Linked DNA regions of Homo sapiens: region 2 is linked to region 1. The links come from fine-mapping of genetic effects on gene expression. Tissue or cell type: blood mononuclear cells. Region 1 holds a variant in brackets; the other region holds the start of a gene. All regions are shown on one strand. Distances are from middle to middle.

Evidence for each region. PIP is the estimated chance that this variant, and not a neighbour inherited with it, causes the effect.
Region 2: it holds the start of F7, and the variant in region 1 is fine-mapped to the expression of F7 in blood mononuclear cells (TOPMed, PIP 0.99).

What each region holds. Positions count from the first base shown.
Region 1 is chr13:113,194,644-113,201,382 of GRCh38, reverse strand. It overlaps PCID2 (PCI domain containing 2), which reads left to right. Exons shown (of 14, transcript NM_001127202.4): 2 at 867-956; 3 at 3,119-3,192; 4 at 4,140-4,205; 5 at 5,161-5,202; 6 at 6,258-6,312. Among named protein-coding and RNA genes, the nearest start is that of PCID2, 11 kb to the left of the region's middle. The variant T/C (reference allele first, on the strand shown) is at 3,415.
Region 2 is chr13:113,102,310-113,109,048 of GRCh38, reverse strand. F7 (coagulation factor VII) reads right to left here and starts at 3,258. Exons shown (of 8, transcript NM_019616.4): 1 at 3,144-3,258. The coding sequence starts at 3,207.

The sequences.
Region 1 (6,739 bases):
GGCCCTGCATTCTTTCCTGTGCCTGCATGTTGTACGTAATTTTTCTCTTCTTTTTTCTCCCAAATCAAGTTATACAGTTTTCCTGCAGTTAACTTTTTTTTTCATTTAATCATCATATTGTGGACATTTTCTCATCTTACTACATACAGATCTATTTTATTCTTTTTAACAGCAGCCGAGTATCGCATTGTATGAATGTGACATCTATTTAGCTATTTCCATTTTCCTTTTATTTTATATTAAGGTTGAGTGGAAGCTTTTTGAATTTTGGATATATGTGGTTTTTAAACTGATTTCTTTTTCATAAGCTGTATATTTGGATTTTCAAACATATATTAGTGTGATTGAGTAAAATTAGAATAATTCATCTTCATGAAGAGCTACATGATAAACCACTGACTTATTTTTATTTGCTTAACCTGTTTTTTTGCTTCAGGAACATCTGTTTTTGTTTTTTTGGTCTGTTTTAAAGAGACGGGTCTTGCTATGTTGTCCAGGATGGTCTCGAACTCCTGGCTCAAGCAGTCCTTCCTCAGCCTCACAAAGTGCTGGGATTACAGGCCTGAGCCAGCCAGGAACAACCTATTTTGAAATGAAATTATTGTTTACGATTGCGCCACTGCAGTCCGCAGTCCGACCTGGGCGACAGAGCGAGACTCCGTCTCAAAAAAAAAAAAAAAAAAAAAGAAATTATTGTTTACCCACTGCAGAGAGTAGTGACCATCTGTTACATTTTGATTGTTCTGTCTTCTTTCAAAGTAGGGGAAAATGAATTTTCCCCTGTGTGGCATTCAGTGTATTGTTGTAGGTTCTATTCGAACAGAATATTTTATTTTCTACTTAGGTTTCCCTTTCAAATGTTTCAGGTGTACGAAGCCATCGACAGCAGAGATGGAGCATCTTGTGCAGAGTTGGTGTCTTTTAAACATCCTCATGTTGCAAACCCACGACTTCAAGTAGGTGAAAGAGCTGTGCACACAGGTGTCTGCAGACAATTACAGGGTAACCACTTTCCTAAGAGAAGCGTAGAGTTTGAGTAAGAAGAAAACTAATATTGTCACTCTTATTTGAAAATTTTAAAGTTTCTTTATGATTTATGTAATTTCAATCCATTTGTGGAGCACTGACTATGTACGCACACTGTGGTGATGTGGACCTCCTGCCCTTGTGTTTGATTCCTAGACAGCTCTCTGAGGTTTAGAGAAGTTAGATGGTGGAGAGGCGGTGGAGCTTAGATTCTGTCTAGGCCTGTGCGTCCCCAAAGCCCCATAGACGTCATGTACCACAGGTGTCTCCCATTTAAGTTGTTAGTCAGAAAGGCTGGCAAGCCAAGGCCCAGCCTGGGGTTGTACATGGAGTTTCCATGTCATCTGTGGCGTAGATGATGTTGAGGCAGTATTTTCTATAGAAAATCTTGTGGACATTTGGTAAAGCCCTGTTTCCTCATTGACACCCTTTATCATATTGGAGTGTGTTCCTACTGGAAGCAGCATTTTTCTTTTGGAAGAAAAATGGGCTTATCTATTGGTGATTATGTTTGGCGGTGTACAGACTTGCAACTCAGACCAGGTAAATCAGTCTCTGAAGTAGCAGCAGGCCTGTTTTTGTTTTTCTAATAAAGTTACCTAGGTGATTCTATGTGTAGACAGTGTTGAAAACCATTGCTCTAAGTAGGAGTTAGTGCTAGAGACTCGATGAGACTCAGGCTTGCCTTGGCCAGAACACCCCATGGCTGGTGCCCTGTGCTTTGTATTGTATGACATGAGAGGACACACACTGTCCTGTTTGCAATCTGAGACAGATCCCTTCATTGTAAAATTCCCCAGTAAACTTTCTTTCGGTGGTTTCATTCACCAGGGACTGTAGAATGGTGATTTTTCTGATACTGTCATTCTTCTCTCTCACCATATCAGCATGGGCTCATTGCTTTTGTAAACAAAACCAAACAAAACAAAAAAACGCAGTGTGCTTATAATCCATTGTGTGTTAGTCTGGGTTCTCCAGAGAAACAGAGCCAGTGGGATATATCAATATTTATAGAGATTTAGTATGAGGAACTGGGTCCTGTGATTGTAGAGGTCAAGAAATCCCACACAAGGAGTGAATTCTTTCTTCCTCGACCTCTTGTTCTATTCAAGCCCTCATCAGATTGGCCATTGCCCGTCCACACTGAGGAGGGCCATCTACTTTCCTGAGTCTACTAGTGCAACTGCCAGTCTCATCCAGAAACACCCTCACAGACACTCCCAGAAATAACATTGTCTGGGGACTCCACAGCTAGTCAAGTTGGCAAAATTAACCATCACCTGTTGAGATGTTCAGATTATCTAAAATTTGACTGTTAGGAGGAAAGGAAAACTTAGAAAGAAATGTCAGCTAGACTAGCCCAGGAGATGAGACTGGTGGTCTCAGCAGGAAGCCGAGAAGAACGAGTCCTAACATAGCACCATCTGTAACTCATTAGACCTCACTTACTAAACCTATGACAGTTACTTAACAAGTATTTCTTGACTGACTGGTCAAGAATACTAATATACTGAAATGTATATGAAAGTGCCTAGAATATTTTCTGACTTGCAGAAGGCGAGACCAAATTATATTCATGGGCTTCTTTTTCCCCTGAAATATTGATAAATATTTGTTGAAGTAATGAACCATTTATTTATTTATTTATTTATGAGACAGAGTCTCCCTCTGTCACCCAGGCTGTAGTGCAGTGGCACGATCTTGGCTTACTACAACCTCCCCCACCCATGTTCAAGCGATTCTCATGCCTCAGCCTCCTGAGTAGCTGGGATTACCAGCGTGTACCACCACATCCAGCTAATTTTTGTAATTTTTTTTGTAGAGACGGGCTTTCACCATGTTGGCCAGGCTGGTCTTGAACTTCTAGCCTCAAGTGATCTGCCCACCTCGCCCTCCCAAAGTGCTGGGATTACAGGCATGAGCCACTGTGCTCACGGCCTGAACCTTTTATTTAGAGTGGTAAATATAAAGTGTTACTGTGAACTGTAAAGCATAAATTCTCTTGAAACAGAGGTTTAAATCTCTTTCTATATGTTGCATTCTTTCTGTGCCTATTAATTTTACTTTTGCTATTTTTCTTTTTTAAAATCAGATGGCCTCTCCAGAGGAGAAGTGTCAACAAGTCTTGGAACCCCCTTATGATGAAATGTTTGCAGCTCATTTAAGGTAATCTGTTGGGGAGGAAGAAAAACACACACATCTGGAAATTGCTGAATTAACTGGGGATTTTATCTTGCATTATCTTGTGCTTGAAGCAGTGAATAACTGACTTTGAAAAAGTGGGAAAATGCATTTGTAACTTCAGTTTGGTAAAGCCTGTGGAAATTGTAAACATCAGTTATATAATACTATTTTTAACATCACACAGTATTTAGCAGAGTGCCTGCT[T/C]AGTGGTCTTTTTAGTAGAGTTTGGAGCCGAACTGTTCACTTACCCTTTTCGTGGAAATATGTCTGTTTTTGAAGCTCTTTACGTTACTGGGAAAGAAATTAGAGTTGAGCAAAGCAAACAATGCTACTTTTTATGTACACTTCATATCTACTGTTTTATCTCTAAAGGATCAGTTCAGGCAGAAGATTGTGTCCTTATAGCCATGTGAGATTTGATTACTGTCTTTCAGAGCAGCCTGGGCTACAGGACCAGTGTGGGGTCTGTGAGCAGGAATGTTCTGTGAACCCCACAGGGTCTTTGGAAGAGTTGGGGCACCACCGTGTTCCTTGTAGTACAAAGCACCTGTGATTTCCTAGCTCTGTGCAGTGTGCGATAGGTTCCAGATTTGGCGATGAACTAACACTGACATTACCCAGCTGGGAATCTAGTTTGAATGTCATTGTCAGCCCCTGCTAGAGTGGAAGGGTCATACTATGTTATCAACATGTGTTACTCATAAACCTGCTGGTGCTAGGTCCTTCTGGGACTTGAAAGAGTAGTCTCCAAGCTTACTGTGGGACTTCCTCTTATCCTCACCTGTTTGTGTTCAGCCATTTGTGTGTTTCTTCCTTCACTCCTTTCATCCCAGGACCACTGGGACCTGTGCAATGAAGTGAGCTGTGTGGGCTGCATAACTAGTGCTAGGTTTTTATTGTGTGACAGCATGTTTCTGTTTCTCCTCCAGGTGCACTTATGCAGTGGGGAATCATGACTTCATAGAGGCATACAAGTGCCAGACCGTGATAGTCCAATATCCTTTGTCGTTCATGGCAGCTGTCCCGCATAGAACACATGCAGTGGATTACTTGGGACTTGAGACCCGGAAACACTGGGCCAGTTGCTCATTTCTGCAGTTAGAAAGGAATGACAGTGTTTTGGAACAGAAGCTCGTTTCAGCTCTTTCACTTGGGTACTTAAATTTAGCATGGATCTGAAGACTCGTGCAGTACTTAGTAAGGAAGAACACTGGTTAGGAAGAAGGATCTTACTCTGCTGAGAAGAAGAATGCTTTGTTGCCTTTAGTAAGGTAGTAAGTATATTTACAGGGACTGGTTAAGTCCTGTTGGTGAAATACCAGAAATCCAGAATTCAGGCAGAGATGGACAAGAGTGGCCTCAGATGTACATCGGCATTGAATTGTGGCAGCTGAAGACCTTAAATCAAACCAATTCATACTTCAGTCATTTAAAGGGTATCTTTAGTTACGGCCTGAGTCAGTGAGTGTGCTAAGGATTTGTATGTATCTCTAGATTTTGTCTTTTCGTTTTAACCACCTTGTTTAAATATACACAGAAGAGAGTTGGGCTATTTGCTCACAGCCTCCTTAGAATTCAAGAATTCTAGAGTTGATAAAATCAGCCTTATGCTACAGATTCTAAAGCACTTAAATATAACTCATGATCATCTGGGCTCAGAGAAACCAAATAAAATGTCAGAAAGGGCTGATTTTAAAAAATCTTGTAAGTCTTTTTTATTTAGGAGACAGTGTGTATGAAATAAGTGTATTTAGTATACTTGAGCCTAATGAGATACAGATATTTGTAATGTGAGCTTATACCTTTTTTCCTTCAAGAACTTACTATTGTTGCAACATAAATCTGCTCAAGGGTGATCTACATTCCTTAAAATTTAGATTCTTATTCTTTACTTTTATCGTACGTAGCATTATTTGAACTTTGTATGCCATATCTTCCTTAATACAGTACATCATTCTTGCGAGCATTCCAGGCCCACAAAGAAGAAAACTGGTAAGTGTGAACAGAAACAGCTGAATTAGCAAATGGCAATTTTTTTAGCAGAATCTTTTTACAAATTTGCTTTAAATAAATGTGTATTGTATTTTCCATGTGGATATTTGGTAATCAGTGTGTTGACATATGGTAATATCTACACAGATGAGTGGAGTCACAAATCTAGTAAACTGAAATGGTAGATCAGCCACATTGTTTGCAGTGTGTCTATGTCAATATAGTATTATTTTTATTTCAGATGTCCATTTCCCTAGATATTTATTAAATACTGTTTTTTCCTTCAGTTGTCAATTTTGAACTTTTGGTTTTAAACCTTAGATAAAAGAGGTAGACCAACTACGGTTCATTTGGGGTGTTCTAATACATAATAATGGTGGTATTTTTAAATGCCTTGCCAAACTAAATTTTATGATTTATTAACAAACTATAGGTTAATACTGAAATTTGTTTATACTGAAATAACCAAAGGCCTTTTGCAAACAAACCCGCCCTTTTATCTTTTTTTTTTTTTGAGAAGGAGTCTTGCTCAGTCGCCGAGGCTGGAGTGCAGTGGCGCAGTCTTGGCTCACTGCAGCCTCTGCCTCCCGCCACCCTTTTATCTTTTAACGTGAAAACTTGCACATGAAAACAGTCCAGTTTTGCCAGTTGGCTGTAAAAGTTGTTTTGTGACATTTTGTGTATTACATATTCTGGTTCCTGTTAGGAAATCTGATCAAACCACTTCTTTTTTAGTGGTGCTGTTTGGATACTGGTGGGAAGCTGAGGGGAGGAGGATATCCTGGGAGCCCAGAACTGAAGCAGGGCTGAGGTCTCTGACAGGGTTGGGGACAGGGGTGTGGAGCACCGCATTGTGGGGCCCCAGGATGATCAGGAAGTCTGAGGCCTGCAGCCTGCCTGGACAGAAGGTGAGGAAGCAGACAACTGTCAGAGTTTTGGATAAGTGCGGACTCCATTCTGGATAGTAGCCCTGGGTGTCCGTGTTCTTCCCACCTCTGGGGATGGAATCTTGGCCCACGTAGCCCCTCACACTTGTTTACTTTTTTGCCCTGCAGGGCTCTGCCTGTCATGTATGCAGTAGCGCTTGACCTTCGAGTGTTTGCCAATAATGTAAGTTTAATTTGCTGTCATTATTATTTTAAAACTAAAACTTGGTGACTATCTGTTGTTTAATTTCATGTCATTCTTCCCAGAAGTTTTGAGGAGCAAATTGGAGTTGAGATGTGTCTGGTATAGGGAGCAAAAGAAAGATATTGACTATTCTTTCTGGGTTAACACCAACAGATTTATATAAACATTTGCTCAGATTTCCACACTGTTCATATAGAGGGAGAGGTTCCATTTTGTGGTTAACCATTTATGGTATGTGTTATTTTTATGAAGTGAGTGGAACAACAACAAATGAGCTTATTCTGCATCTCTTCTACCTTTAAGATGTGGCCTGCTCCCCCACCAAAAAGAATTCAGCTTCATATAGATTTGGGCAGTAGGAGGGGGCTTCCCTGGGGTGAAGGGAGATCCTGGGTTTTATGGAGGC
Region 2 (6,739 bases), 92 kb after region 1:
ACACTCCCGGGACATCCACTCCCCCGGGACACCCACACTCCCGGGACACCCACGCCCCCGGGACACCCACACCCCTGGGACACCCACGCTCCCGGGACACCCACGCCCCCGGGACACCCACGCTCCCGGGACACCCTCGCCTCCGGAACACCCACACTCCCGGGACACCCTCGCCTCCGGAACACCCACACTCCCGGGACACCCACTCCCCCGGGACACCCACACTCCCGGGACACCCACGCCCCCGGGACACCCACACCCCTGGGACACCCACACTCCCGGGACACCCTCGCCTCTGGAACACCCACACTCCCGGGACACCCACGACCCCCGGGACACCCACACCCCCGGGACACTCACACTTCTGGGATACCCTCGCCTCTGGAACACCCACACTCCCGGGACACCCACGCCCCCGGGACACCCACACTCCTGGGACACCCTCGCCTCCGGGACACCCACACTCCCGGGACACCCACTCCCCCGGGACACCCACACTCCCGGGACACCCACGCCCCCGGGACACCCACGCTCCCGGGACACCCTCGCCTCCGGGACACCCACGCTCCTGGGACACCCTCGCCTCCGGAACACCCACACTCCCGGGACACCCACTCCCCCGGGACACCCACACTCCCGGGACACCCACACCCCCGGGACACCCACACCCCCGGGACACCCACACTCCCGGGACACCCTCGCCTCCGGAACACCCACACTCCCGGGACACCCTCGCCTCCGGAACACCCACACTCCCGGGACACCCACAACCCCCGGGACACCCACGCCCCCGGGACACCCACACTCCCGGGACACCCTCGCCTCCGGAACACCCACACTCCCGGGACACCCTCGCCTCCGGAACACCCACACTCCCGGGACACCCACGCCCCTGGGACACCCACACTCCCGGGACACCCTCGCCTCCGGAACACCCACACTCCCGGGACACCCTCACCTCCGGAACACCCACACTCCCGGGACACCCACGCCCCCGGGACACCCACACTCCCGGGACACCCTCGCCTCCGGAACACCCACACTCCCGGGACACCCTCACCTCCGGAACACCCACACTCCCGGGACACCCACGCCCCCGGGACACCCACACCCCCGGGACACCCACGCCCCTGGGACACTCACACTTCTGGGATACCCTCGCCTCCGGAACACCCACGCCCCCGGGACACCCACGCCCCCGGGACACCCACGCCCCCGGGACACGCACACTCCCGGGACACCCTCGCCTCCGGAACACCCACACTCCCGGGACACCCACACTCCCGGGACACCCACGCCCCCGGGACACCCACACTCCCGGGACACCCACGCCCCCGGGACACCCACACTCCCGGGACACCCACGCCCCCGGGACACCCACGCTCCCGGGACACCCACGCCCCCGGGACACCCACACTCCCGGGACACCCTCGCCTCCGGGACACCCACACTCCCGGGACACCCACTCCCCCGGGACACCCACACTCCCGGGACACCCTCGCCTCCGGGACACCCACACTCCCGGGACACCCACTCCCCCGGGACACCCACACTCCCGGGACACCCACGCCCCCGGGACACCCACACTCCCGGGACACCCTCGCCTCCGGGACACCCACACTCCCGGGACACCCACTCCCCCGGGACACCCACACTCCCGGGACACCCTCGCCTCCGGGACACCCACACTCCCGGGACACCCACGCCCCCGGGACACCCACACTCCCGGGACACCCACGCCCCCGGGACACCCACACTCCTGGGACACCCACGCCCCCGGGACACCCACACTCCCGGGACACCCACACCCTTGGAGGCTGGTGTGAGCAGAGCCGGTGACCGCCCTGGGGTGAAAGCAGATTTGCATCAGAAAAGCTCTCAAGAACTGAGGAAAACCTGATGAAGAACACACGATTATCTGGAAGGAACAGAATGGAGCAAAGAAGATAAAATCGCCTGCACCCCAGTCCCAGGGAAGGCCAAGCTGGAGCGGTCACTTCCTCTCGAGCAGGGAACACCCTCCTTGGGGGGCACTGCAGTAGCCACCCCGCGGGCTGGCTCTTTGCCATGGGAGGGGAAGGAGGTGATGTTGGCCCCCACTGGGCCCCAGGACAAAACCAGTGGCAGTCCCTGCTCACCTCTGTGAGGCCCCGGCTTCCACGGCATGTCCCGTGTTTCTCCTCCTGAGGCCTTAGCGACCCCGCCTGGGGCAGGAAGGTGGCCGGGGTCATAAGGCCATGCTGTGAGCTAGGGCTGCAGCCCCACATCCCAGGCACTGTCCCTCACAGCCCACCCCCCACTCGCCATCCCCACACGCCATCCCCACGCCCCACTAGCCATCCTCACGCCACACCCCCTACTCGCCATCCCCATGCCCCACTCACCATTCCCAGGCCCCAGCCCCACTCGCCATCCCCACCCCCCCATGCCCCATCCTCTGCACCCCACACGCCCTTTCCATGCCCCATCCCCCACACCCCACATGCCCCATCCCCGACACCCCACACACCCCATCCCCCACACCTCCATGCCCCATCCCCTGCACCCCACACGCCCTTTCCATGCCCCATCCCCCACACCCCACACACTTTCCCACACCTCACCCCCACACCCCATGCCCCACATGCTGTTTCCCAGGCCCCACCCCCCCACGGCCCATCCCCCACACCCCACACGCCATCCCCACCCCCGATCCTCCACACCCCATCCCCTACGCCCCACATGCCGTTTCCCACACCCCATCCCCCATGCCCCAGGCGCCATCCCCCACGCACCGTCCCCTACCTGTGCTCCCCAGCCTGGGAGCACCCTGTGCGCACTTCCTGCACTCTGAGAGGCCCCAGACTCCCTGCGCTTGTCCGACCTCACAGGCAGGGGCCCATGGGGGCCAGGAAAGCACCACCCACTCCTAAAGTTCTTTGAAAAATAATCCCGCCAAAGCCTGGGCCACCAAGAAGGGCCTCCCCTCCTGTGCCTGGATGCTGGTTTCTAGAAGGAAAGAAATTGAACAGGAGCCGCCAGAAAACCCTCCTGGTGGATGGGGGTGTCCGGAGCAAGGGCGGGGTTTGGGAAGCCCGGGCTGGCTCCTGGATTTGCCCACTGCCCTTCCACCAAGTTTATGGAGAAAACCTCCCCGGACGCACCTGCAGCCAGGCAGCCCTGAAGCCCAAGCAGAAGGCAGAGGAGCCTGAGGGCCTGGGAGACCATGATGAAATCTCTGCAGTGCTGCCCCTGCCTGTTGACATTCCCCATGGGACTGACGGGCAAAGTTCTCTGCCTCCAAGGGTGACAGAGGGATGGGGGAGGGGAGGACACAGGCGTCCTCTGAACACCCCAGCTGAGAGCTGCACCTGGCCGGCCAGTGGCCATGCATCCCCTGCTGCCCAGCCACTGAGCTCAAGTGGGGGGGACAGGAGAAAGGTCAGGTGACCCCAGCTGTGCTGCAGAGCGGACGGTTTTGTTGCCAGCGTGCAGGTGTTAAGGTGTGTGTGGCACCAACACTTCAAATACGATCTAGAATTCCAAACCCCTAATGTAAGTTGGGAAACAGATTTAAACTGCAGATGAAAACTTGTCCCATAGCAATCATGCGAGTCAAATCTCAAGACTGTATCTTGGGTGTGGATGTAAATATTTGAAGAGAGCCTCCAGACCAGGCCAGCTAGGCCGTTGCCTGCAAGGGAGGCTGGTTTCTTAGGTGAGCCACAGAGCCTCACTGAGAAGTGCCGGGAATAGGATCATTCTGGCCCTGAGCTGGGCACCCCCACTCCGTTTTGACTGCAGGCAGCACCCCCATTCTCCAGCGGTCCACATCTTACGTCTTTTTGTTTGTTTTGTTTTGTTTGTTTGAGACAGAGTCTTGCTCTGTTGCCAGGCTGGAGAGTGCACTGGTGCAATCTCACTGCAACCTCCACCTCCCGGGTTCAAGTGATTCTTGTGCCTCAGCCTCCTGAGTAGCTGGGACCACAGGTGCACGTCACCATGCCTGGCTAATTTATATATATATATTTTTTTTTTTTAGCAGAGATGGGGTTTCACCGTGTTGACCAGGCTGGTTTCGAACTCCTGACCTCAAGTGATCCACATGCCTCAGCCTCCCAAAGTGCTGGGATTACAGGCGTGAGCCACTGTGCCCGGCTGGCGGCAGTCCACGTCATTTCTACCTGCTGTCATGGGCCCAAGCCACAAGCTGTGGTGACTAACCACCCCAGGTTGCCCAGGGACTGAGGGTTCTCAGAATGTGGAACTTTCCATCCCAAAAACACTGGGGTAGACGGTCATCCAAGCCTCCTGGGTTGCCCAGCAGGCCTGTCTGACCCCTCAAGCAGGGAGTATCCTCCATGTGAACAGTTGCATTGCTGATGACTTCTTTGGAAGCTGATGTCCAGTTCTTTTTACGGCTGGAGGGAGGGAGGTGATTCCTTCCCAACAGCCAAGTCTTAGCTCAGGGGTGCCTTTCAAAGCAGCCCCCAGCACCCCCAAAGCCTCCCTGCTTGCTGCTGACCTGCATCTCAGTCCAGAGAGCAGAGCACTTGCTGAGGGGCCGACAGGGCATGTTTTCTCTTCCACCCAGCACAGCTGAAGCCCATCTGTGCCCCTCCATGATATCGATCCCAGGGAGATCGCTTACAAAGTAGCTGCTCCGTCTGGAATAAAGCTCACGTCCAGCTCAAATCTGGTCCCCGCGGCTCTCGGCCAGCACAGCCCAAGGTAATTTCAGGACGTGGAGGGGAGGGGGCCATATCTAAACCCTACCCCTTTCCCACCTGAGAGTAGATGGCTGGCTGGTCTTAGGGTACCCTTCCCCTTTGGGGCTCCAGGTCAGAGGTCCTCAACCCTCTCTGGGCAGCAGAATGACCTGGGGAACCTCAAGCGCCAAAACCCCCTGAGAGATTCAGTGGCTCATGGCCTCGGGGCTGGTGAAGCTCTTCAGGTGATGGACCCTCACCTGCATGCAGCCCTCTCTGTGCGGGCAGGCGGGAGGGGGCAGGAACCGGGCTATCTGGCTGGGCTCTCTGCCCGTCTCACTGCTGGCCAGGGCGGCTGCAGGTGCCCGCCTATGGCCATTGTCCTGGTGTGGGTCCTTGAGGACACAGGTGTGAGGGGCTCCACCTGGCCCCGGGGACCCGCTCCATACCTCCCTGAGGGGGACCTGCCTGCTGGTCTCCCTCCCACGTCTGTCCCAGGGGCATGCCTGGAACCTTGCCTGGGGCTGGACCCGGCCACACGGAGTAGCAGGTGTGGGGGCTGCTGCACCATCCCTCTCACAAAACCCCACTTCCTCCCTTCAGGGAGGCTAACCAGGCTCTCCCAGGACTCCCGGGACCTCCTCTGGGGCCTCCTTGGACATGCTGTGGCCCTGTCACTAGGATGGGAGGGTCCTTCAGCCCCTACCCTGGGGAAGGGCACGGTCACAGCTCTGTTCCCAGGCCAGGCCTCCCTCTCTCCTGTGGCAGCCTCTGTTGATCCACCCATCCACTCATTCCCGCCTGCAAGAAGGGCTGGGCCCCTCCGCCTCACAGTCACTCTTGAGTGTGGAGGACACAGGAAAACTTTGGTTGTCATCTCAAGGCAAGTTGCTTGTTTGGGGGCTACAGAAACCACGTCAGCACCTTGTTCATCTGCAGCCATCCCTGACTGTGGTGGTGGGCACACGTGAGCTGTCCAGGGAGTGTGTGAGTCAGATGTCTGTGACATCAGAATCTCTTGGGTGGTGGCTCATGCCTGTAATCCCAGCACTTTGGGAGGCTGAGGACTGAGGATCGCTTGAGGAAAGGAGTTCCAGACCAACCTGGGCAACATAGCAAGACCAAAGCTAGACAAAAAATAAAAAAATTAGCTGGGCTTGGTGGTTCATGCCTGTGGTCCCAGAGACAGAGAACCCGGGAGGCAGAGGTTGCAATGAGCTGAGATTGTGCCACTGCACTCAAGCCTGGGCGACAGAGGGAGACCCTGACTCCTTCCCTACCAAAGAATCTCCATGCTCACACTCGTACATGAGAACCACGCTCGCACAACCCAAACTCACGCCATACACATACCACACTCACACACACCGTACACATGCCACACTCATACCCCAAAGTCACACCACATAAACACACCCCTATACACATGCCACACACCTACACACACGTGATTTCCAGGCTCTTCCACACCCATAAGGAATTGGAATCTACGGGCAGGTCCCGGGAATAGTATTGAACAAACATCCAGGGAAACTGCTATGTGTTCTCGTTTTGGGAACCAGTGAGCACATCCCACCTGGTGCCAAATGCATCTCGGCAGGACGCATGTATGCCAGGGAAACAGGCAGCCACTAACAGGATTTGAGCTTGGGCACCAATTGGTTCCAAATCCTATTTGGTGCAATCCTAGAAGCAAGGGTTTCCTTGTGACGGAGGGTGCAGGGCATGGGAGGACAGAGGAGCTGCGTGCACGGATGCCTGTGTGCCCTGTGCCTGCAAAGCCGCCACAGCAAGCTGTCTTGCAGGCCAGTTCCAATGGCTGACAGTGTGTGCACTGGCGAGGAAAAGCCTGTGCTAAGCGGAACTCTGCTGTCTGTGCAGAGAAGGGAGCTGGGCCTGGGCACCACTGTCAGCCAGTAGAGCACGGGGCTGCTCCCTCCACCCCACCCGGGTGCTTTGCCTTCTTGGGGCCACAGCTGGAGGCAGCTGAGCCCTCGGGCCTGCCGGGTGTCACACCAGTGCTGTAGGATGCTAACTTTCAGTTTAAGAGA